6 separate regions of the Homo sapiens genome follow, and regions 2, 3, 4, 5 and 6 are each linked to region 1. Evidence: fine-mapped expression QTL. A gene starts in region 1. Each other region holds a variant in brackets. All regions are shown on one strand. Distances are from middle to middle.

Evidence for each region. PIP is the estimated chance that this variant, and not a neighbour inherited with it, causes the effect.
Region 2: its variant is fine-mapped to the expression of METRNL in whole blood (TOPMed, PIP above 0.99).
Region 3: its variant is fine-mapped to the expression of METRNL in whole blood (INTERVAL, PIP 0.96).
Region 4: its variant is fine-mapped to the expression of METRNL in whole blood (TOPMed, PIP 0.98).
Region 5: its variant is fine-mapped to the expression of METRNL in whole blood (TOPMed, PIP 0.92).
Region 6: its variant is fine-mapped to the expression of METRNL in whole blood (TOPMed, PIP above 0.99).

Annotation. Positions count from the first base shown.
Region 1 is chr17:83,077,334-83,081,418 of GRCh38, forward strand. METRNL (meteorin like, glial cell differentiation regulator) reads left to right here and starts at 2,276. Exons shown (of 4, transcript NM_001004431.3): 1 at 2,276-2,652. The coding sequence starts at 2,483.
Region 2 is chr17:83,097,996-83,102,081 of GRCh38, forward strand. No RefSeq gene overlaps it. Among named protein-coding and RNA genes, the nearest start is that of METRNL, 20 kb to the left of the region's middle. RefSeq lists an enhancer at 428-1,424. The variant G/C (reference allele first, on the strand shown) is at 1,882.
Region 3 is chr17:83,046,727-83,050,812 of GRCh38, forward strand. QTGAL (queuosine-tRNA galactosyltransferase) reads right to left here. Exons shown (of 13, transcript NM_001009905.3): 2 at 1,943-2,059; 3 at 1,745-1,844. Among named protein-coding and RNA genes, the nearest start is that of QTGAL, 3.0 kb to the right of the region's middle. The variant A/G (reference allele first, on the strand shown) is at 1,538.
Region 4 is chr17:83,039,854-83,043,938 of GRCh38, forward strand. All of the region lies in intron 3 of QTGAL (queuosine-tRNA galactosyltransferase), which reads right to left. Among named protein-coding and RNA genes, the nearest start is that of QTGAL, 9.9 kb to the right of the region's middle. The variant G/C (reference allele first, on the strand shown) is at 2,044.
Region 5 is chr17:83,202,164-83,206,249 of GRCh38, forward strand. The region is part of intron 2 of LOC101929650 (a long non-coding RNA gene); the gene reads left to right. Among named protein-coding and RNA genes, the nearest start is that of METRNL, 120 kb to the left of the region's middle. RefSeq lists a silencer at 3,286-3,445. The variant T/C (reference allele first, on the strand shown) is at 1,607.
Region 6 is chr17:83,051,983-83,056,067 of GRCh38, forward strand. The region is part of intron 1 of LOC124904094; the gene reads left to right. Among named protein-coding and RNA genes, the nearest start is that of QTGAL, 2.3 kb to the left of the region's middle. The variant G/A (reference allele first, on the strand shown) is at 2,274.

The sequences.
Region 1 (4,085 bases):
TTTTAATTAGCAGACTTAATGTTTTAGGTTTACAGAAACACCAAGCAGATGGTAGAGGTCCCCCACACACCCTCTCCCTGACCCAGTTTCTCTTATGATTACCTTCTCTCATTAGGGTGTAGGCGTGTGACAGTCAAAGAACCAATATTGATCCGTTATTATTACAAATGTCTCAAGCCTCCATCAGGATTCACTCTTGTGCTGTATTTTCTACGGGTTTTGAAAAGTACACGTGGGTCCCATACTCACCATCGTACGATCCCAGTCTTAGGACAGCCCGCTGGGCACAGGAGGCTGGGCATCCTGCCAGGTGGCAGATCTCTGCCCCAGCCTAGGCTGGAACCAGCTGCCTGCTGACCAGAGGCGGCCTCTCCCCTTCGGTCTAGCAGCCACCAGGGGCTCTGAGACCCTGAGCAGGTCACGGCAGGTCCTGAGTTCCCCATGTCCGCATCTATAACTCAAGAGATCCCAGCACTGCCCTGCCTCTTCCGTGGTGTGATGATCTGGACCCTGATAGGCCATGTGGCCCTTCAAGGGTGGACCGGGCCTGGGGGGGCTGCTATCTTATGCTTGGTGGGCATGGAAAGCAGTTGCTGCGCACAGGTGTGAAGCCGCAGGTCCCTTTCCACAGCAGGTCCCTTTCCACAGCAGGTCCCTTTCCACTGGGCACCCTGGTACCTGCAGTGATGGGGGTGGGGGGAGGTGCACTCCTAGAGCAGACGGGGGTGGGTGGGGCAGTCTCCAAGCTCCGAAATGCACCTCCACCAGACCTTGAGCCTCAGGGTGATGTCACTTGATGTGCTGGGCAAGGTCCTGGCTCCAGGCTTTCGATGGGGTGGGTGCTCTGAACAGATCCTTACAATGAAACTACCTTCAGTGGTCACTGTCATCGCCTTCCAGTTCTTCAGACCCTCACCCTTGTCCCAGCTTTCCTGGGCTGGGGGCTGGGCTCCACCTGCCTTTGCCGGTGACTTCCGTCCCTGCAGACTCACAATTTTCAAAGCCCTCTCCCCGCCTCCTCTGGTAGTCACAACCCAGTTATTCAGACTTGCACAGGTCGTTCGCAAGTCCTCCTGGAAGGTATCTTGGCTGGAAAAGGGGACAAGGCCAAGCTTCCCCACCGCTGGATGCTGCGCTCGGCTCTGGAACTGACACCAGGCGTCTCGGGCAGGGCCACTGACCCGCAGCACACAGAAGCCAGCTTTGCCATCGCAGCGGGGACCGCCGGGCGGGCCAGCTCCGCCCTCTCCTGCCTGGGGGGCCCTCGGCACCCTCTGGCTCCCCTTCTCTGGCCTGAGTCTCTAGGGCCTCCCCAGTCCGGGCGGGGGTCTCCGCTGTCCCCCCCACTGGGTCAGGCACGTGGTGGCCGCGGTGACCACCTGGGGAAGGCGCCGACTCCGAGGAACACACTCGAGCAGGACGCTCCGCAGGTGATTCTGCCCCGCGGGCACGGGGTGGGGGCGGGATTTGGCCAAATCTGCAGAGAGTTTAGGTTGTCAAAGCTGGGGCGGGGGTTGCTACTGATACCCAGAGTGCGGGGGCCAGGGTGCTGCCAACATCCCACCATGCGCAGGACGTCCCCACCCCAAGAACCACCCGGCCCCGCGTATCCGGAGCGAGGAGTGGGCAGCGCTCGGCAGAGGCCCCGGCGCGGCGGCTGCACGTCCTCCGGGAGGAGGGAGGGAAGCCGGGCTCACCGCCGGGCCTCCCCCCCGGTCAGGAGGGAGCCGGGAACTCCCGAGGCACCAACTCTGCGGAACGCGGGGCGCCCGGATCGCCCCTGATCACCGCCCGCTGGCGAGGCGCGGGGGACCCAGAACCGGCGGGGCCGGGAGCCTCCTTTACCGCTCCGCGCCGGGGCTGCCCGCAGGATGGGGCGCAGGATGGGGCGCAGGATGCGGCCCCGGCACCGCCTCGCGGGGGTCTGCGGGGGGCGACCGCGGCTCGCGTCGGCCACTACTTGGGGGTCTCGGGTTTCCGCCCCGCCCTCGCCTTGCAACCCCTCCGGCCCCGGACTCCGCTTTCCAGGCCGGGCTCTTCCCTCCGGACCCCGCTCGCCGCCCGGCGCGGCCCCCTCCTCCTGCAGCGCCCCCCGCCCCGGCGCCCGCGCCCCCGATTCGCTGCTGACTCGGTGTCTGCGCGTCCGGCCGGGCGCCCCGGGAGGAGTTTCCGGCGCGGGGCGGGGTCGGGGGCGGGGTCGGGGGCGGGGCGGGGCGGCGGGTGGGCCCCACCCCCCAGCTGAGCCCGGCCGGGCGGACTCGGACTCGCCAACTTCAGAGGCTCGGCGGCGGCGGCGGGCGCGGAGCTCTGCGCGCGGCTCCAGCGGGCCGGGATGGGCGGGCGGCCGCGCGGAGGACGCGGGGGGCGCGCGACGTGACCACCCGGACTCGAAGCCCGCCCCGCCCCCGCCCGGCTCGCCGGCTCCGGGGTCTGCTCCGGGGGTCGCGGACGCGGGGCCGGGCGGCGGAGCCGGCGCCAGAGCATGCGGGGCGCGGCGCGGGCGGCCTGGGGGCGCGCGGGGCAGCCGTGGCCGCGACCCCCCGCCCCGGGCCCGCCCCCGCCGCCGCTCCCGCTGCTGCTCCTGCTCCTGGCCGGGCTGCTGGGCGGCGCGGGCGCGCAGTACTCCAGCGACCGGTGCAGCTGGAAGGGGAGGTGAGTGTGCGCGGCGCGACCCCGGCCCGGCCCCCTCCCCTCGCGTCCCCTCCCGTCCCGGGCCGGCCGAGCGTGCGGGGGCGCGGCCGGGGGCGGGCGCGGGGCAGGGGCTCCGGGGGCCGCTCTCCAGGCCCAGTCCGGTGCCCGCTGTCCCCCGCCCCCGGTTCTAGAACAAAAGAGCCCGCGGCGTCCCGGTTCCCGGCCCGGAGGACGCCCGGGGGAGGCGCGCCTGCAGCGCGGCCGGGTGGGTCCCGGCTCCGCGCGTGTCCGAGCCTCGGGGGCCGCCGGTCCCGCGACCCCATCCCGGGGGCAGGCGGGGGTCGGTCCTCGGGCCCTTCCTGGCAGGCTCCGGGAGTTGCGCGCCCCGAGGCCGCCCCGGGCCAGAGCGGGAAGGGACGGCCGCGGGAGGGAGCGGCGGTTTCGGGGATCGGGCGCGGACCGCAGCGGGGGCCACTTCCGTCTCGGGGAGCCGCGGGCGGGCACCTGTGAGCCGGGCCGAGTGTGGCTCCGGCCGGGCCCCCCGCCCCTGCCCCGTGAAGGTCAGGCCGCCCTTGGCCGCGGCGCGCGCTGCGCTGGGCGACCCCCCCCCCCCCCACCCGCGGTGGCGGCCGAGGACTTTTTTTTTTTTTTTTTTTTTTTGACTCAAGCGTGGCCGCCGAGAGCGGCGCCGACCGCGACTGCCCCTCGGGAGCCGCCGCCGCTCCCACGCGAAGCCCAGGGCGCCGAGGGCACCGCGGCCGAACCCGCCCTGCGCGAGCCTCGCAGTCGCCAGTTCCGGGGTTCGCAGATGCGCGGGGACCCGAGTGACGCGCGCCTCCCGGAGAGCCGTGGCCGGGCTGGCCCGGGCCTGGGTCCCGCTTCCCCTCGGCGCGGCCCCCGCCCCCGCCCCCGCCCCCGCCGCGGGCCGAGTCACGCGGTGATGTCGAGCGAAGCTGTTTTCCGAGAAGGTCGGGGCAGAGCCGGTGCGGGGCGGGTGGTGTCCGCGGGGCGGGCGCAGGTCTCCCCGCAGCCGCAGCCTCCGTTCCGGGTCCCCGCGAAGCCACAGTCGCCCCCCAGCGCCCCCGGCGGAGCCTCCCCGGGGGAAGGGGCGTGGCGCTGGGGGGCAGAGTCGCCCCGAGGGCCGTGGGCGGTGCCCGGCTGTCCCGGGAGCGGCCGCCTCCCTTCTCGGCCGAGCGGGGCCGCGGGCGGATGGAGGTCTGGGGGGGGTCGGCCGGGAACGCCGGCGCCGGGAGCCTCCGAGGCCGACGGCTCTTCTGGGGCCGCCCCTGCCCCCGCGGAGTGATTCAGCCCCGGCTCGCTGCCTCTGCCCGGCGGGTCGGTGCATCCCCGAACCGAGGCCCGGGGCGTTCCGCTCCAGCAGACCGAAGCCAGAAACGCCGCCCCCGCCACCCAGGCCGAGTGTGTCGAGAAGGGGCCGGCGCCCTTTTCAGGGT
Region 2 (4,086 bases), 21 kb after region 1:
TGCACCGGACAGCAACTGCTTCCCCTCCAGGGCGGCCCCCATCGTCCCCCAGGTGCTGCAAGAGCAGTGAGACTTACCCAAGACAAGTCAGAGGCTTTGGAGCTCTCGGGGGCGGTGGCTTCTCCCAGGAGCCCCGTATCTGTCAGTCCCCCCATAAGGGGAGGGGAGTTGGCAAGGCTCCTCCTTGCTCCCAGCGTGAGGATTGCCCCTACTTTTCCGGCCCCCACTTGCCCCCTCCACCTGCCCTTTTCCCTCCGGGAAGCCCTGGAGGTTTTCCAAGAACTCTGCGGGTCGAGGGGGCAGCCTATGTGGGGTGGCGGGGGGCCTCCTGCTTGTTGGATGCCCAGACGCCTACACCTTTCACCCTGGGGTCCAGTCGGCTGATGGCCATGAGAGAGAAGCTGAGAGCAACCAGAGCCCACAGCTCCATGCTGGTCCCCCATCTGCAAACGCTGGGCCCCATGGGAGCTGTGACTCGGTTTCCAGCTCGTCACAGGGCTGGCCGAGGCCCCGGCATGTCAAGCCATCTCAGGTTGGGCAGGAATGTGGTCCGTGTTCACATGTGTCTCTGTGTGTGTGAGAGAGAGGGGTCAGCTGGGACGCTGGGGTGGCAGGGACAGTCCTGGCTCACCCCTCATCCTCCCTCGACCTCGACTCCCTCCACATGAGGAGCCCCCCCTTCCTGGCTATCCTGTGAGTTGAGCTTCCTCTGCTGGGAGGGCTTTGTCAGAGGTTCCCTGCGGTTCCAGAAGGAAAGCTGGCTGCAGGGAGGGCCGGGCACTGGACACCGTGTGGCTGAGCCTGTGGCGGGGGCTGCACAGCTGGGTTCCCAGCCCCCCTCCTTGTCCCCACCCCACCGCACTGGGAGGCCCTGCTGAGGGGCCAGAGTCCGGCTGCAGGTCCCACGGGTGGGGGTGGGGCCCCTCATTAGCACTGCAGCTGACACTGAGGGCTTCCACCTCGCTAATTGATTAAACTGTTTAGAAACCAGGCCGGCGTGGTGGGAATTGGCCCCGGCCGGGCTGTCCGCTCCCCTTCTGTGCAGGCAGCGGCCCCCGGAGTTCATCAGTCAGGCCGGTTGGTGGGGTCCCGGCCCTGGCTGCCCTCGGGAACCCTTCTTTGCTCCTTTGTGCGGTCAAAATGGTGAGGGTCCTGAGAGGAGCTGGTGAGACCCCGGGGTCCTCTCCTCCCTGACCACTCACTGGGCGAGCATGGAGGGAGGCCTACTGTGCACGGGCATGTTCCTGGGAACCTGCCTGCTGGGATTAAACCCGCCCTTGTGAAGGACGGCAGGTGGGTCACTCAATACCAGGAGGGGCACGGGGCTGTGAGCAGAGGCCCGAGAGCCTTCTGAGGCGGCACCGGGTGCTCCTGGGCCCTGCTCTCCTGGGATTTGTTGTGCCTGTGACCTCAGCCTCTTCCTTCCTCTCCTGTGGGATTCCCCCAACACCCCCTCCCCTCCTGCCATTCCTTCCCCCACCAGGCCCCATGCCTCCCCTCCCCAGTGCCCCCTACCCCCAGGTCTTCCCTCTAGGACATCAGCCTGGGCTGTGGGTCTTGGTCTCCCACAGAGACTGAGTCCTGGGAGAAGGGCAGAGCCTTGGTTCCCAGTGCAGCCCCTGTGCCAGCCTGCAGTGGGCACCGGTTCAGCCGGTGCACACTGGGTCCTGCCCCCACCTGAGGAGCGGCCTGGGGCCTGATCAGCCCTGCTGGTGTCTGGCCTGCAGCCAGCACCGGCTCTGCTATTCACACTTGGTTACAGGTGGGTGCCCATCCCAGCAGCCTCGGAGCAGAGTGGGTCGGGCTCCGGAGGTGGGGGCGGCCACTAACAGCAGGAGGTCGTGGCAGTGCGGCTATGGCAGGGGTTCTGAGGGGCGGAAG[G/C]CAGGGGCGGGACGTGGGGACGCAGACCTGCAGGGAGGACGCCGGCTCACCCAGCAGGGAGGGGATGGCCGCCCAGGGACCCCCAGCCTGCCCGCTCTGCTTCCCCGACCGCCGGGGCAGGGGCCCCACGGGGGACGCCAGGGAACGTGAGGAATCCGGAGTCAACACTGGGCCACTGTGTGCTGCCAGCCGGGCGGGCCGTGATTTATAAAGACAGCGGAGGCTTGGCTGGTGTCGGGGCGGTGAGGTCACGGCGGCCGGGGGCTCTGGAATTTCTTCAGAAGAATTTTGCTTACCAAGCCACATACTTTTCTAGCCATCAGTTTGATCAGAGGCAAGATGAAAAATATGCTAAAAAACAAAGAAACAAAAATACACCCGGGGGGCTCCGGTGAGGGGGAGGGGCGCTGCGGGAGGGGTGGAGGGCCCAGGGAAGGGTGAGGGGCCGGGAGCCACTCTGCCCGGCACTCTCCGCCCAGAAACAGCCCAACGCCCCTTTCTTTCCCCTTTTAGCACTGCTGAGCTGGACTAAAATGCCCAACAAGGAACTTTACTAAAAACTGAGGCAAGAAAGAAAACACACATGACATAAAAATAGTCAAGGGCACATTCTTGATGGTAGATAACTGGTCTCTGGCCACAGCGGCTGCCAGGTTGGGTGTCGGCCGGCGGGTCTGCCAGTCCCACCCATAGGCACTGCACTTCCCTGGGCCGGACAGGGGGTGTGGCGGGTCTGTGGGCGGGGGGACAAGGTTGGCAGGACCGTGAGGGGGGTGGTGGGTCTGTGGGAGGGGGACAAGGTTGGCAGGACCGTGAGGGGGGTGGCGGGTCTGTGGGCGGGGGGACAAGGTTGGCAGGACCGTGAGGGGGGTGGTGGGTCTGTGGGAGGGGGACAAGGGTGGCAGGACCGTGAGGGGGGTGGCGGGTCTGTGGGAGGGGGGACAAGGTTGGCAGGACCGTGAGGGGGGTGGCGGGTCTGTGGGCAGGTGGACAAGGGTGGCAGGACCTGTGAGATGATGTGAGTGCAGCACAGTGGGGCTCTGTAAGAAGCGACCCGGGCAGCTTGAGCAGGGGCAGGCTGGGCGGTGCCTACGGGTCTCTGTCCACCGGAGCCTCTGTTCAGCCCACCTCAGTGTCGCTCCGGATGTGGATAGAAGGAGACACTGTCTGGGCCACAGACCAGGTGCTTCCTTCGTCCTGACCACACCTGCTTCTGCCCAGGAGACGCTGCAGGGGCTGTGCTCCCCGCCCGGCTACTCTTGAGTGGTCCCCAGGCTCCTCCTCCTCCCGGTTCCACCTGGAGCCGTGGGGCTGTGCCGGGGATGCCTCGCTGCAGCTGCAGCTCAGGGAGAACTCACTGCTGGAGCTTCTGCCTCTCCCGTGCCGTGGGGCCGAGCCGAGCTCCACCAGGGTCTGGACTTCTGCACGGGCAGCTGTGCTTCCCAGGGTCGTGGAGAGGGGTCCTTGGTCCCAGCCACTGTGTGACCTCGACCAGGACACTTGACTTTCCTGCCCCCAGAGGGTCTTGTCTGGACCTCCAGAGCCCCCAGCCTTGCTCACTTGGCTCTGCTTCTGGGCAGGGTGCCCTGGCATTGCTGTTGCTGGCACCTGCCGTGCCTTGGAGGGGTCTCCAGTGGGACCTCTGAGCACGGCTCTTCCTGTACTTCTCAGAGGTGAGCAGAGGGCATTTGTGGGAGAACTGGAACCTGGGGAGGAAAAACCCCAAGGCTGGCAAAGACTCCCTGCAGTCTGTCCAGTGATCCACTGAGGCTGAGTGGTGGAGGACATGGAGGCCGGCCCGGGACCAGGACATGGAGGCCGGCCAGGGACCTGGGGAAGAGAGGGCCTCAGTCTGGTGAGACCAGCCTGGTGGGTGCCTGGGGAAGAGAGGGCCTCAGTCCTGTGAGACCAGCCTGGTGGGTGCCTGGGGAAGAGAGGCCCTCAGTCCGGTGAGGAGACCAGCCTGGTGGGTGCAGGCCACCCTTGCCTGCTGTCAGGGCCTGCCCTTCTCTCCGGCCTCCAGCTGCTTTGCCCCAGCGATCAGGCGCCTGAGCTTCCTCCCCCGAGCCTGAGTCCAGCTGAGCTCCGTGTGGCTTTCCCGGTGGAGCAGACTCTGTCTGATTTCCCAACGGCTGGCGCCTCCCAGGGCGTGCTCCTTGCCACGGAACAGCCCCTTGGGGCCAGGTGTGTACTCCAGGCAGTGGC
Region 3 (4,086 bases), 31 kb before region 1:
TACCCAAAGGATCTGAAAACCAGTGTTCAAACAACAACTGTACACAAATGTTCAGACTGTCATCATTCACAGTATCAAAGGGTAGAACAACTCAAATGTCCACTGCCTGACAAACAGACACACAAAACATGGTACTTATGTACAACTGCATATCATCCTCCCAGAAAAAGGAACGGAGCACGATACATGCCACAGCACAGAGGAACGTTAAAACGTTATGCTAAATGAAGCCGGTTACAAAAGAGCACGTGGAACCTGACTCCATTCACATGAAATGTCCAGAACAGGCAAATCTACAGAGACAGAAAGCAGGCGAGTGGTTGCCAGGGTTGGAAGAGCCTGCGTGCCACCGCAGAATACCCCAGACTGGGTGGCAGAAGGGGCTTCTCACAGTTCTGGAGCCTGGGAAATCCAAGAGTAACGCTCCAGCAGATTCAGTGTCTAGTGAGGGCCCCTTCCTGGCTCACAGAGGTGCCTTCTCCCTGTGTTCTTACAGAGCAGGAGGGGTGAGGGAGCTCTGAGCGGCCTCTTTTATAAGGGCACTAATCTCATTGGTGAGGCCCCACCCTCATGTCCTAATCACCTCCCAAAGTCCCCACCTAATGTCATCCTAATACTATCACCCTGGGGGTTCCAAATATGAATCTCGGGGTGGGCACAGACATTCAGATCATAGTAATAAATCCCTACCAAAGAATAAGAAACTTAGGTCTATAATCAATCCTTATCAAAGAAAAAGAAATTTAGGTCTATAATAAATCCCTACCAAAGAATAAGAAACTTAGGTCTATAATAAATCCCTACCAAAGAATAAGAAATTTAGGTCTATAATAAATCCCTACCAAAGAATAAGAAACTTAGGTCTATAATCAATCCTTATCAAAGAACAAGAAATTTAAGTCTATAATAAATCCCTACCAAAGAATAAGAAACTTAGGTCTATAATCAATCCTTATCAAAGAACAAGAAATTTAGGTCTATAATAAATCCCTACCAAAGAATAAGAAACTTAGGTCTATAATAAATCCCTACCAAAGAATAAGAAATTTAGGTCTACAATAAATCCCTACCAAAGAATAAGAAACTTAGGTCTATAATAAATCCTACCAAAGAATAAGAAATTTAGGTCTATAATAAATCCTTACCAAAGAATAAGAAATTTAGGTCTATAATAAATCCTACCAAACAATAAAAAATTTTAGGTCTACTAAGGTTCTTTCTTTTCTTTCTTTTTCTCTTTCTTTCATTTTCTCTCCCTCTCCTTTCTTCCTTCTTTCCTTCCTTCCTTCCTCTCTTTCTCTCTCTCTTTCTCTTTTTTGAGATGGAGTCTTGCTCTGTCACCCCAGCTGGAGTGCAGTGGCACGATCTCGGTTCACTGCAACCTCTGCCTCCCGGGTTCAAGCAATTATCATGCTTCAGCCTCCCAAGTAGTTGGGATTACAGGCGTGTGCCACTACGCCCGGCTAATTTTTGTATTTTTTGGTAAAGATGGGGTTTCACCATGTTGGCCACGCTGGTCTTGAACTCTTGACCTCAA[A/G]GGATCCGCCTGCCTTGGCCTCCCATAGTGCTGGGATTACAGGTGTGAGCCACCACACCTGGCCTCTACTAGGTTCTTAATAAGTGGTATATCCAATTACCACCAGGATACTTTTTGTCAGTATTTGAACAACATGAAACTGTTTCGGTACGTAAGTTGATAAGAAACCACGAATTATAGTTTAATAAACTAAGCATGTTTACTTACCGCCTCTAGGAGAGGGAGAATCGTGCCCCCCAATGATCACGTGGACACCAGAATCTTCCAGCTTCACTCTCCATTTTTCAATGATAGCCCCAGACTTGTCCTGAAAGCAGAACACTGGCAGGTCAGGAAACTTCCCTCCGAACAGTCAACCGTTGCTTACACTGGGGCTGAGTCACCCGACAGGAAGTTCCTACAAACCTTACTGGCATCATTGAAAACAGACAGCTCCATGGTACCTTCAAAGTCCTGTTGCAAAACAGACCTCAAACATTCGTCCAGCCACGGTTCAGCGTTGTGGACTGGGAGGATAATAGACTGGAATTCAAAAGAAATGGATTAACAGAAGTGTGAAAACTTAGTTCCCTTTCCATGGCTCTAATTTACCTCCCCTTCACCACCCGCACATATGCCGTGACAAACAAAAGGTGTCCACTCCTTTTCTCCAGGCTCTTAACATGCTTGTAAGATTCTTTACGTCTTAGCTTTCCCTGAACTGCCTTCTACATGTTTTTGAAAGTGAAAAAAAAACTGAAAGGACTTTGGGAGGCCGAGGTGGGTGGATTACAAGGTCAGGAGATTGAGACCATCCTGGCTAACATGGTGAAACCCCATCTCTACTAAAAATACAAAAAATTAGCCAGGCGTGGTGGCAGGCTCCTGTAGTCCCAGCTACTCGGGAAGCTGAGGCGGGAGAATGGCGTGAACCCGGGAGGCGGAGCTTGCAGTGAGCTGAGATTGCACCACTGCACTCCAGCCTGGGTGACAGAGCAAGACTCTGTCTCAAAAAAACAAAACAAAACAAAACAAAAAAACTGAAAGGCATCAAATTGTTCCCAACTCAATGGTAAATCATGAGTTTTCCAATCACTGATCAGAAACATCATTTTGGTTGAAACAAGTATCTGGGTATCTTCCAACTCACTCATGAAAATAACTGGTTGGTTTTTTTTTTTTTTTTCTGAGATGGAGTCTCGCTCTGTCACCCAGGCTGGAGTGCAGTGGCTCGATCTCGGCTCACTGCAAGCTCTGCCTCCCGGGTTCACGCCATTCTCCTGCCTCAGCCTCCCGAGTAGCTGGGATTACAGGTGCTGGCTGGTCATGTTCTAGGTGGAATAAGCATTTCGGCAAACCATGTTAGAAAACCTGCAACAAAGTAACCCCTTTAAGTAACCCCTCAGCCCACAAAAAACAATGTTTTAACAAAGTATCGGGCAGGAGGTGTTCAAAGAACCCAGCTGAGCAAATGGGAGGCCTGACGTCCATCTCTCGATTCCTTTGTCCTACACTTCGTTTCGGGCTAGTGTAGCTAGTGTCCTTTTCTCATTGTCCTTTTCTCATGAAGCCCAAAACAAAAATTTATAAAGTGGGATGGAGTAAAACCAGGAAATTCAATGCCAACAAAACAACTGATTACAGGAGTTAAGTCTTAATTTCATACATTATAATATTAAGTGATACGGAGCGATACTTAAGAGATTAGTCTGTCCTCACCCTTAATTTATATCCAAAAAAGAAAAGTTGAAATTGTGTTGAAAACACAATTTAGTCAAGTTCTTTACAAATGAAACCTCACTCTGTCTCTTCCTGGACTTAGGTTAATAAGAATAAAACGAGTTCTGGCCGGGCGCGGTAGCTCACGCCTGTAATCACAGCAGTTTGGGAGGCCGAGGCGGGCAGATCATCTGATGTCGGGAGTTCAAGACCAGCCTGACCAACATGGAGAAACCCCGTCCCTACTAAAAATACAAAATTACCCTGGTGTGGTGGTGCATGCCTGTAATCCCAGCTACTCGGGAGGCTGAGGCAGGAGAAACGCTTGAACCCGGGAGGCAGAGGTTGCGGTGAGCCGAGCTCGCGCCATTGTACTCCAGCCTGGGCAACGAGTGTGAAACTCCATTTCAAAAAATAAAAATTAAAAAAAAAATAAAACGAGTTCCCTAATTTATTTACAAATTTACCTTAGTTTGGATTTACTTAGAGGAAAAGAAGGAAATAATTTTTCTCAAGATCTACAAAATATAATGTTTCTATCAAAGATAGACCTTGATTCACCTGTTACCAATTTTAGTAAGACTGGAATAAAAAAGAAAAAAGGCTGGAAAAAAAACAAACAAAAAAACAAAAAACAGAAAACATGCTGAGCCTTTGGGCGACTGCTAATCCTACATCCCTGTGGTTGTTCCCTGCATCGGCCTATTGGCTGGGTCTGAACCCTGAGGGCCTTTGCTCCAGCCTCTGCCGGAGCACGGGGAAGGTGTTCGGGGCTTAAGGGCAGGTTTTTAGGGCACGTGTTTGGGGTAAGTGTGCTGGGCACACAGGCAGGTGTGTGGGCACGGAGGAGG
Region 4 (4,085 bases), 37 kb before region 1:
AGCTGCTCCTGTCCACTGAGACACCCCGCAGGTGAGCCTGTGATTTTGTGAGTCTCACAGATCTGAACAGGACCCAACAGAGGACTTAACTCCCCAGGCTCTCACATGGGGACATTCCAGAGGGACCGTAAACCCTCAGCCGCTTGCCCTTGAAATACGTCATAGCTGTAAGACTCCCTCAGGACCAAGTCCACTAGAAAGTGGGGTGATGCCACCCATTCCTGAGCACATTCTAAAGCAGTGGCTCCTGATCCTGGATGTGTCTCAGAATCTTCTGGAAAGCTTTTAAAATCCCAATGCCCACGCTGCACCCCAGACCAATTACATGAGAATATCTTAGGGTGAGACTCAGGCACTGGTTTTCTAAAACTCACTGATGATTCTAACGTGCACAAAGTTGACGACCATTATCTTAGAGAAGCTGTGACTCCTAAAATCTGTAGGAACCCGTCCACCAACTAAAAACGTATCATCTGCCAACCTTGACTTTTTCAGCCCCATGCAATATAGGCAGGCATATTTTTTTCAAGTCTTATATGGAAACTTTAAAGTCAAACTAAAAGGACCCTGATCTATTACAATCAAAGCTAAGAACACAAGCTAATCATTCAACATAAAAACAGAGGGTGAATGAAGAAACCTGAACACAGCTTGACCCAGCATCATGAAATTTCAAAATTCAAAAGTACAAAAAGAAAAATCTTAAATACTTTGAGAAACAATACCTTTAAAATAACAAGAGTCAGACTGGTGTAAGATTTCTTATTAGAAACATGGACACTAGAATATAATGAGGCAATCCCTTTAAAATTCTAAGAAAAATTATTTTGCACCTAGAATTCTATACCCAGCCAATCTGTCAACTGAGCATAAAAATATTCTTGAGCAAGAGAAATAAGCAGAAAAAAAGTTTGAAAAAATAATGGCTGAGGCTGGGCACAGTGGCTCATGCCTGTAATCCCAGCACTTTGGGAGGCCGAGGCAGGCGGATCACAAGGTCAGGAGATCGAGAACATCCTGGCCAACACGGTGAAACCCCATCTCTACTAAAAAATACAAAAAATTAGCTGGGTGTGGTGGAGGGTGCCTGTAGTCCCAGCTACTTGGGAGGCTGAGGCAGGAGAATGGCGTGAACTTGGGAGGCAGAGCTTGCAGTGAGCCAAGATCATGCCACTGCACTCCAGGCTGGGTGACAGAGCGAGACTCCATCTCAAAAAAAAAAAAAAAAAATGGCTGAAAAATTCTCAAATTACTAAAATTTTACTGGAGGAGCTCAAGAGTATATTTAAATATGCAGAAGAAAAATTAGCAAACACAGAGATAGATGGGTAAGTCTGAATCTGAAAATGGAGACAAAGAAGAATGAAGAAAGTGAAAAGCATCTCAGAGAAAGCTGGAATACCAATAACTATACCAACATATGCACAATGCAAGTACCACACGGAAAGGCAAGAGAAATAAGCAGAAAAAAAGTTTGAAAAAATAATGGCTGAAAAATTCTCATATTATTGAAAAACATTCATCTACACATCCAGGAAGCTCAACAAACTCCATGTAGGATAAACACAGAAGATTCGCAGCTAAACACATCATAGTAAAAATGCTGAAACCAAAGATAAGGACAAAATATTGAAAGCGACAAGAGAAAATCACTTGTCACTTACAAGAGACCCTCAGTAAGATTAACCGCTTACTTCTCATCAGAAACAATGAAGGCCACAGGCAATGGGGTCACACACAGATGCTCCTCAACTGAGGGTGAGCCTATGTCTAGGTAAACCTGCTGTAAGTTTAAAACATCATAAGTCAAAAATGCTTGGGGGCCTGGGAGCTGTGACTCATGGCCACTGCCTGGTATCCTGACAGAACCATGGTTTCTACTGAATTTGTGTTGCCTTTGACCATCATAAAGTTGAAACATGGTAAGTTGAACTATCACAGGCTGGGGGCCATCTGTATTCATAGTGCTCAAAGAAAAACACTGTCAATTATGAATCCTATATCCAGCAAAGTCATCTTTCAAAAATGAAGAAGCAAGTAAGA[G/C]ATTCTAAGATAAACAAAAACTGAGGCAGTTCATTGTAGGGCTGAAATGAAAGGGCACTAAACAGGAACTCATAGAGAAAGAACAAATGAAGAACAGGGATAAAGTTTACTATTCAGGTAAATATAAAAGATAGTACTATTTTGGTTTGTATTTTTCCTATATGCTTTTAAAACAAATACAGAAAACAAGCCAGGTGCTGTGGCTCATGCCTATAATCCCCACACTTTGGGAGGCCAAGGTGGGTGGATCACTTGAGTCCAGGAATTCGAGACCAGCCTGGGCAACAGGACAAAACCCCCTCTCTACCAAAAATACAAAACTTACGCAGGCGTGCTGGCAGGCACCTGTATTCCCAGCTACCTGGGAGGCTGAGGCACAAGAATCACTTGAACCTACTGGGTGGAGGTTGCAGTGAACCAAGATCACGCCACTGCGCTCCAGCCTGGGTGATGGAGTGAGCCCCTGCCCCCTACTGCCACACACACACCAGGAAACAATTATAAATCTAAATCTACATTCATGAAAATAATTTATGAATTTATGTTAATGTTACATGATTGAAGCTAAGTGTTAATTCAAACTACATTGTTATAAATTTAAGATGTTCACCGTAATCCTCACAGTAACCACTAAGACGATCATTTAGAAATACACAGAAAAGGAAACGAGAAGGGAATCAAAATGGCACATCGGAAATAAGCAATTAAACAGAAAAGAAGGTAGTAATACAGGATTGAGGAATAAAAAAGACATAAGACATATAGAAAGCAGATAGCAAAGTGGCAAAAGTCCTTCCTTGTCAGTAATCACTTTAAATGTAAATGGACTAAATTCTCCAATTAAAAGGCAAAATCTGGCAGAACGGATCTTGAAAATTATGATCCATCTAAATGCTGTCTATATGAGGAATTCACTTCAGATCCAAAGGCACAAGTAGGCTGAAAGTGGAACAAGGGAAAGAGATATTCCACGCAACTAGTAATCAAAGAGTGCTGGCGTGGCTGTACTAATATCAGAAAAAATAGACTTCAACTCAAAAATTATTAGAAAAGACAAAGAAAGAGTCAATTGATCAAGAAGATATAACAAGCATAAAACTGTACACATCTAACAAGAGGGTCACAAAATTAAGTAAGGCAAAGATTGACTGAATTGGAGGGAGAAACAGTTCTACCGTAACAGTCGGAGATTCAACATTCTACCTTCAATAATGGAGAGAACATCTAGAGAGAAGATAATAAACAGAGAACTTGAACAATACTATAAACCAACTAGACTTAGCAGAAATATACAGAATACTCCACTTGACAGCAGCAGAACACACATTCTCAGGTGTGCACAGCGCATTCTCCAGGACAGGTGACACGTCCGGCCATAAAATGTACCTTAAACATTTGTTTAAAGATTGCAATTATATGAAGTATCTTCTCTGACCACAGTGAAATGAAACTAGAAATAAGTAACAGAAGTAAAACTGAAAAATTCATAAATAAATGAAAGCTAAACCATATACTCTTCAGCAACCAATATGTCAAAGAAGAAATCATAAGGCTAATTAGAATATACTCAGAGACAAACGAAAACAAAAACACAACAAACCAAAACTTTCAGGATGTAGAAAAATCAGTGCATAGAAAGGAATTTATAGCTATAAATGCCTACATAAAAGAGGTCTAAAATCAAGAACCTAAAAGTACACCTTAAGAAGCTAGAAAAAGAAAAATAAACTAAACACACAGCTAGCAGAAGGAAGGAAACAGTGAAGATTAGAGTGAAAATAAACAAACAATGACAAAACAATAGCAAATCAACAAAAAGAGTTGATTCTTTGAAGAGGGTCAACAAAATTGACAAACCCAGCTAGACTGAGAAAGAAGGAAAGACAGCTCAAAATGCTGAAATAAAAAGTGGTACATGACTCCCAAACTTAACAGAAACTAAAAGGATTATGACAGTGTGAAAAACAACATATGCCAAAAAAGTTAGATAACCTAGATGAAATGGACAAATTCCTAGAAACAAACTACCAAAATTGACTCAA
Region 5 (4,086 bases), 120 kb after region 1:
TCCCGCCCTGCTTCTCCTAGAGAATGCAAAGGCTGCCTCTCTTCCCTCCCAGTGTAACCTGACCCTCCTCTGTGCCCCTTGGCCACCCTTGCATCCTCTAGCTCCTTCTGACACCTTCTTTTTGACTGTTCACAGAGGGCAGGATCTGAAGCCTGCAGAGGTGACCCTTGGTGCCTTGTGCAAGGCTGGCCAGCAAGTAAGCATGACTTTTGGCTCTGCTGCCAGCTGGGCCATTTGATCTACACACACTTTTCTGCCTCTACCTGGAGTTAGGCGAGGCTCTCTATAGAATGGGTACTTGTCAACAAAGTGGGCTTAGACTCCGGGCAGTAGCAGTTGAGGCAGGAGCAGTGGGAGAAGTCTGGGCTAATGGCAAGCACCCAGTCCCCTCTGTGAGCTGCCCACTTGTCCCAGGCTCTGCCATGGCCCTTCCTCTGATTTTTAGGAGCTTTCATGAGGCCTCGCACAGCCTGAAGGAGCAGAGCTTGTTGTGCTAATCCCCAGCATCCTCTGCAGAGTTCTCAACACCTTGTGGCCGAAAGGTCCTTCAGATTGTCCAGGCACCCACCCCGAAAACCAGCCCTGGCATGGGGGTGCTGACCCCTCCCGGAGCAGTGGGGTGCAGGGCTCATAAGGCGGGGTCTGCAAAGCATGCTGGGGTCTTGCTCTGTGCTTACTCCAAGGATGCAGCCCGGAGTGCCACTGCTCTTGGACTTTCCTTGAGACACCCAGAGCATTGTGTGGCCATCACTTCTCACGTGGTCTGGCTGCTTGGGGGGCTGGCCTGAGTCAGCTAGGGCCAGTGCTCACCTTATCCTAATCACCTACTGGGGGATTTTGTAGGCTTGACCCTCCATGCCCTGGTGTTTCCCACAGGCTGTGAGGTTCTAGGGTGTCCCAGGGAGGATAGACGAGGCTGGTGTCCTAGGATCCCTCCCTGTCCGATCCAAGGTGAGGCTGCCAGGGAATGGAATCTGGCTCTCAGGCATGGGGGCCAGGCTCGCCTGCAGCCTCAATGTGGCTGGGCCCTGAAGGCCAGGGGTGGGTGGGGTGCAGCCCAGAGCTTTCTGCGGCTGAATCACCCTCTGGGTACAGGAAGCCTGACCGCATGACTTCCAAACTGATGCAACTCGGACTTTCTACTGAATTTGTGAGCTGTGATACTATTGCTTCTGAAGTCAAAGAGGGCTCAGAGGGTTCACGGAGCATTCCCTTTCAATGACGATCGGCCTCTCTGGAATATCTCCAGTGTCAGCAGGGATGGTGTCAGGGTTCTCCTAGCAAGAAGTCATAAGGAATGGAAGGGCTGAGAAAAATGAGGGTTAGAGTGACACCATGTCAGTCCCCCTGGCTAGCCTCTGCCAGCTGGACAAGCTGGGGCCTCCTCTCCACCTTGACTGGCCTGTGCCGGGGGAGGGAGCCAAGGGCAGGACCCTCTTGCACCTCTACCCTGGGCCTGGTCCATTCTCGCTCCTGGGACCTCCCCAGAGACCTCCGCAGCACACCCCACCAGCACAGTGAGCAGCACGGAGAGACCCAGACCGAAGTGGCCATGTGCTCCATGTGAGGGCTCCGTAGGAAGCAAGGATGTACAAGTGGCTCCTTT[T/C]CCCTTCCTAGGGGTCCCTTGCAGGGCTGGGACCCCACTCTAGGCGAGGCCTCTGGGCAAGGATGACCGTCCCTGCCTGCCTCTGGGAAAGAGTAAGTTCCTGCTCCTGGTGTCAGCGCCGACTGGTTCTCCAGGGACCACGGCGGAGGTCTGCCCTCTGTCTTACTTTCTCATAGAGATTTTCCGTGGGACCTGGGCTCCCTGCCTGGTTAGGGCTGGTTGAAGAATAAGTGGGAACGGTGGAGGAAGGAAGGGGATGTGCCAGCTGTTGCTCTGGCCCTTTCGTGTGGATATGAATCCCTGGTGAGAGGCAGATCCTGCGGTCAGTGCGGAGCCCACCACATTCCCCCAGGAGGGTGTGTCCGGGGCTGTGTATGGGGGGAAGCTGGGCAAACAGGGTCATGCCGTGAATGCAGGGGCAGGAGCAGGGACGTTTCTCTCTGCAGACACTGGTGCTCCCCAAAGCAGGAGAAATGGCACACAGCCATGTTGTGGACACATTTGTGAGAAAATTCCTCTGAATGTCAGAGAACATGGAAGAGATGAAGCTACCAGCTTAGAGAGACACAGGAACACATACTACAGACACACAGCACGCACATACCCAGACACACCCAGACACACTCACCAGACACACAGACTCACACAGAGAACACACCACGTCACACACAGAGATTCACAAAGAACCACATCACACACGTTTTCACCCACAGAGAGAACATACCCACATCATACCCATGTGCTGACACACAAGAGCATAAACTCACACACACATACATGAACTCACACCGAGAACACAGGCATCACACACAGGGACTCACGCACAGAGGGCATGTGGACACTACACACATGTTCTCACACAGCACACGCCCCGTCACACCCATGAACTCACACCGAGAACACAACATCACACACAGGGACTCACGCACAGAGGACATGTGGACACTACACACATGTTCTCACACAGCACACGCCCCGTCACACCCATGAACTCACACCGAGAACACAACATCACACACAGGGACTCACGCACAGAGGACATGTGGACACTACACACATGTTCTCACACAGCACGCCCCGTCACACCCATGAACTCACACCCAGAACACAACATCACACACAGGGACTCACGCACAGAGGACATGTGGACACTACACACATGTTCTCACACAGAACACACCCCGTCACACCCACACCCCCACATGCGTAGACACACACATCCTTACTCTGCGCGCATCCCTGGCCTGGTGGACGGAAGATCGAGCGCTCTGGGTGGACTTACGGCCACAGGACGGGGGCAGAGTCGGCAGGGAGGCCCCTCCGAGGCCCAGTGGGCCCTGCGCTGGCCCCGGCCGCAGACGCCCACCTGCTGTGCTGGCTGCGGCGTGTGCCCCGGGGTCTGTGGCTGACCTGGCCTCCACGTCTCACCCATGAAGCAGGCATGAGAGGCTGGCCAGGTTGGCTAAATGGGACCACAGCAGAAGCACAAGCCCCAGAATGTGCACGAAGGAAGAGAGAGCCGGGGGAGGTGGCGGGCTGGGTGTGCAGAGTGGGCCTGAGCTCCGGCCTCCTCCCTGGACGCCCTCCCGTGGCCGCAGCCATCCCTGCACCCACTGATGTGGCCTGACCCCTCACCCTGAGCCCACCCTTCGCGGCCACTAGGGAACCTCAGGAGAGGCCGCCGCGGTGGGGTGGGCGGATTCCCCCGGAGCAGGCCCAGGCCCCTGCTTCTGAGCGCTCCTGCAGCGCCGCCTGCTGGCCACAGAGAACCCGCGTGTGCCGGCCGCCAGGCCTGGGCATCTCCTCTCCTGCAGCGCCGCCTGCTGGCCACAGAGAACCCACGTGCGCCGGCCGCCAGGCCTGGGCATCTCCTCTCCTGCAGCGCCGCCTGCTGGCCACAGAGAACCCACGTGTGCCGGCCGCCAGGCCTGGGCATCTCCTCTCCTGCAGCGCCGCCTGCTGGCCACAGAGAACCCACGTGCGCCGGCCGCCAGGCCTGGGCATCTCCCCTCCTGCAGCGCCGCCTGCTGGCCACAGAGAACCCACGTGTGCCGGCCGCCAGGCCTGGGCATCTCCTCTCCTGCAGCGCCGCCTGCTGGCCACAGAGAACCCGCGTGCGCCGGCCGCCAGGCCTGGGCATCTCCCCTCCTGCAGCGCCGCCTGCTGGCCACAGAGAACCCACGTACGCCAGCCGCCAGGCCTGGGCATCTCCCCGGGCCCTAGTTCCCCCCCTCACCTAAGGGGAGGGACTCCCGTCTTTCCATCCACCCCCTCCTTGCCTCTGCAGAGCTCCAGGGAAGGCTGGCACCCGCTCACTGCATTTAGACTCCATCAGGTTCAGACAGTGGGTCAGGGTACAAGGCTTCAGCGGCCAGGGATGTGGCCTCTAATTTGTAGAGAGAAAGAAGGGCAGAGGTAGGTAGGTAGATATATGATAGATGGTTGATAGATAAAAATAGATGAAATAGATGGCATGGTTA
Region 6 (4,085 bases), 25 kb before region 1:
ACGCCCCGGTCCCGGGTCACCTCTCGGAGCCGCCTCCTTGGCCCGTGGAAGCCTCCTGCTCTCCCCTAGGGCGCGCGTCACAATCTCTGGTCCCCCGTAGACGCCGCCGCGGGGAAGGCGGGGCTGTGCGAGGGCGCCGCGCTGCAAACCCAAGCCAGGCGGCCTGGAGTTGCTGTAAAGCCTCAAGCAAGGCTGATATGTAAAAGGTCGTTGCATTTCACCCGGGCTGTGGGCTGTGCTACTTGACCGGGGAGGACGAGGGGACTGCAGGGCGTCCTTTCAGACAGACGCGGTAGGGAGAGCAGGGCGTGCAGGACACTTGACGGCCCCAGGAGAGGGGTGAGGCCCTGACCCCACCGGGGTGTCATCCAGGAGGAAGGGTGCCCGGGGCGAGGTCCCCCAGGAGAAGTGCCCAGGCCTGAGGCCTTGACCCCACTGAGATGTCCCCCCAGGAGGAGGGGTGCCCGGGGTTAGCTCCCCTAGGAGGAGGGGTACCCGGGAGTGAGGCCCTGACCCCACCGCGAGGTCCCCCAGGAGGAGGGGTGCCCAGGAGTGAGGCCCTGACCCCACCAGGAGGTCCTCCAGGAGGAGGGGTGCCCAGGAGTGAGGCCCTCACCCCACCGTGAGGTCCCCCAGAAGGAGGGGTGCCCAGGAGTGAGACCCTGACCCCACCAGGAGGTCCCCCAGGAGGAGGGGTGCCCGGGAGTGAGGCCCTGACCCCACCGCGAGGTCCCCCAGGAGGAGGGGTGCCCAGGAGTGAGGCCCTGACCCCACCAGGAGGTCCCCCAGGAGGAGGGGTGCCCGGGAGTGAGGCCCTGACCCCACCGCGAGGTCCCCCAGGAGGAGGGGTGCCCAGGAGTGAGACCCTGACCCCACCAGGAGGTCCCCCAGGAGGAGGGGTGCCCGGGAGTGAGGCCCTGACCCCACCGCGAGGTCCCCCAGGAGGAGGGGTGCCCGGGAGTGAGGCCCTGACCCCACCGTGAGGTCCTCCAGGAGGAGGGGTGCCCGGGAGTGAGGCCCTGACCCCACCGTGAGGTCCCCCAGGAGAAGGGGTGCCTGGGGAAAGACATGACCTCAGTAGCTCCGGGTACCCTCCACCTTTGCCCTCATTTCCGCCTCCGCATGCAGCCTTGGGAACTGCAGGGCTGGGAACCCGGAGAAGGCGGCCGGGCTCTGGGGGAGCTCAGAGGTGGCCTTCCCTGCCAGGAACACAGGCCAGGCCCCATCCCTATCTAACCTTATACTTGAGGAGCACAGAGCGGATATCTCCAGATTTGAGTCCTGAACGCGCGGCCGGGAACCCCAGCAGTTCTGAACTTGTCAAGGGAGCAGCCTGCCATGAGGGGTCTCCCAGGCGGCTGTGAGGCCTCTGGAAACTCCCTGCTTGGAGGAGGTTGACTGGGGACAGGGCCGTGGGGGTCAATAAAAAGGACTGCTGCCATTAGCCCTGGGCTGCCTGCACACAGAGATTAAGCCCGCTTGGGATTTGTTCCAGCTGATCTGAAGTAATGAGTAATTCACAATTAATGAGCATGGCTGTAAGCAGCCCTTCCTGGACAAATCCTTGGCTGTCCAAAACTAAGATTAAATGCAAATCATTCTGTCAATTAACCGTTACAACAAAGCCAAACTTCTGTTAAGCATCACTTCATAGATGGTTTTTTTTCCCTTAAATTGCCTCCTTGTTTGCAAAGCCTGTTTTACAAGTGGACTGCTTAAGTCACATGAGTGAAAATGCAGCCTTATTTACCGTTCAGCAAAAGCTATCTGAGAATTTGCTTCCAGGGACTTCATGTTCTCCAGAGGTTGGGGTACTAGGAATCATTTCATTGTAAAGGACTCAGTAAAAAGTAGCCCTGTAGCTGCCAGAATGCGCCGTAGGCTCATGATAAGGTAGGTGGTAAGGGCCAGAGGTCAGGGGTCACAGATGGCTTCTGCCCCTCCACAGCACATGGTGTCCAGAACTGGGCTTGCCTCTCACCTTCCTTCCTGTACATTTCCTGGTGCCAGAAATTTGCTTTTCACTGACTTCCCCCTAATTCAAATTTGATTAGAATCTCCTTTTTGGGAACATTCAAAGTGCCAAGGTGCGTTTCAGAAATGCAGGGTTGCAGAGGTGGGGTCCTGAAATCCAAGGGTGGTGGGGCCTGAGATCACTGCCCTCGCAGTAGGAAGATCCTCGGGGAGAGGTCAGCAGAGGGCCCGGACAGAAGGCACTGACACTGTACCCTGGAGAGAGACAGGAAGGAGGACCTGGGGCCTCAGAGCTGGCC[G/A]GGTGGAGATCGTGTGGTCTTCGTTCAGAGGGAAGTGAGGTGCTGATGAAAGATGATTGACGTCACGTGGGCACCAGCAGAGGAAGTGACACAAAACGCCCCACAGCTTTGGGTTCACTGAGTGGGCAGTTGTATTTATTTATTTTATTTTATTTTTGTAGAGATGGGGTCTTGCTGTTGCCCAGACTGGTCTCGAGCTCTTGGCCTCCCAAACTGCTGGGATTACAAGTGAGAGCCATTGCAGATAGCCAGTTTTCTTTATTTTTAATTGTTGTTTGTGCAAAAGGTTTTGGCGAATACTGGCTATATTCAGAGGACTCAGTACCAGTTGCCAGGGGCCTGGAGTAGGTGCTGTGGTCTCAATGTGTGTGTCCCCCCAAACCATATGTTGACACCTAACCCCCAAGGCGATGTGGTTAGGAGATGGAGCTTTAAGGAGGTGACTGGGCCGTGAGGGCTGTCCTCTCATGACGGACGAGTGCCCTTCAACGAGACTTGAAGGAGCCCTTCTGTCCCTTCCTCCACGTGAGGACACATAGAAGGTACCATCTCTGGGGAACAGGCTGTCACCAAACACCAAGTCTGCTGGCGCCTGGATCCTGGACTTCTCAGCCTCTACAACTGTGTGCAATACATTTCTACTGTTTATCAATCACATGGTCAGAGGTATTTTGTTACAGCAGCACAAATGGACCAAGACATCAGGTCTCCAAATCGAAGAACTTCTCAGCAGCCTTCAGTGCTGGGTGGGGAGACAGAGGTTCCCTGCAGGTCCCCACAGACAGTGTTAGACTCAGTGCTGGGTGGGGAGACAGAGGTTCCCTGCAGGTCCGCACGGACGGTGTTAGACTCGGTGCTGGGTGGGGAGACAGAGGTTCCCTGCAGGTCCGCACGGACGGTGTTAGACTCGGTGCTGGGTGGGGAGACAGAGGTTCCCTGCAGGTCCGCACGGACGGTGTTAGACTCGGTGCTGGGTGGGGAGACAGAGGTTCCCTGCAGGTCCCCACGGACAGTGTTAGACTCGGTGCTGGGTGGGGAGGTTCCCAGCAGGTCCGCACGGACGGTGTTAGACTCGGTGCTGGGTGGGGAGGTTCCCTGCAGGTCCGCACGGACGGTGTTAGACTCGGTGCTGGGTGGGTTGACAGAGGTTCCCTGCAGGTCCGCACGGACGGTGTTAGACTGGGTGCTGGGTGGGGAGGTTCCCTGCAGGTCCGCACGGACGGTGTTAAACTCGGTGCTGGGTGGGGAGGTTCCCTGCAGGTCCGCACGGACGGTGTTAGACTCGGTGCTGGGTGGGGAGACAGGTTCCCTGCAGGTCCCCACAGACAGTGTTAGACTCGGTGCTGGGTGGGGAGGTTCCCTGCAGGTCCGCACGGACGGTGTTAGACTCGGTGCTGGGTGGGGAGACAGAGGTTCCCTGCAGGTCCCCACAGACAGTGTTAGACTCGGTGCTGGGTGGGGAGGTTCCCTGCAGGTCCGCACGGACGGTGTTAGACTCGGTGCTGGGTGGGGAGACAGAGGTTCCCTGCAGGTCCGCACGGACGGTGTTAGACTCAGTGCTGGGTGGGGAGACAGAGGTTCCCTGCAGGTCCGCACAGATGGTGTTAGACTCGGTGCTGGGTGGGGAGACAGAGGTTCCCTGCAGGTCCGCACGGACGGTGTTAGACTTGGGGGACACTGGGTCCCCAGTAAGAATGATTCTGATGTGAGTGCAGCTAGTGAGGGCTGAGTTCAAGCTTTAAAGACAAGAGCCCAACAGGTTCCTTCAACAGCCTGATCCCCTAGACCTTCGTGTGTCCAAGTCTCCAGAGG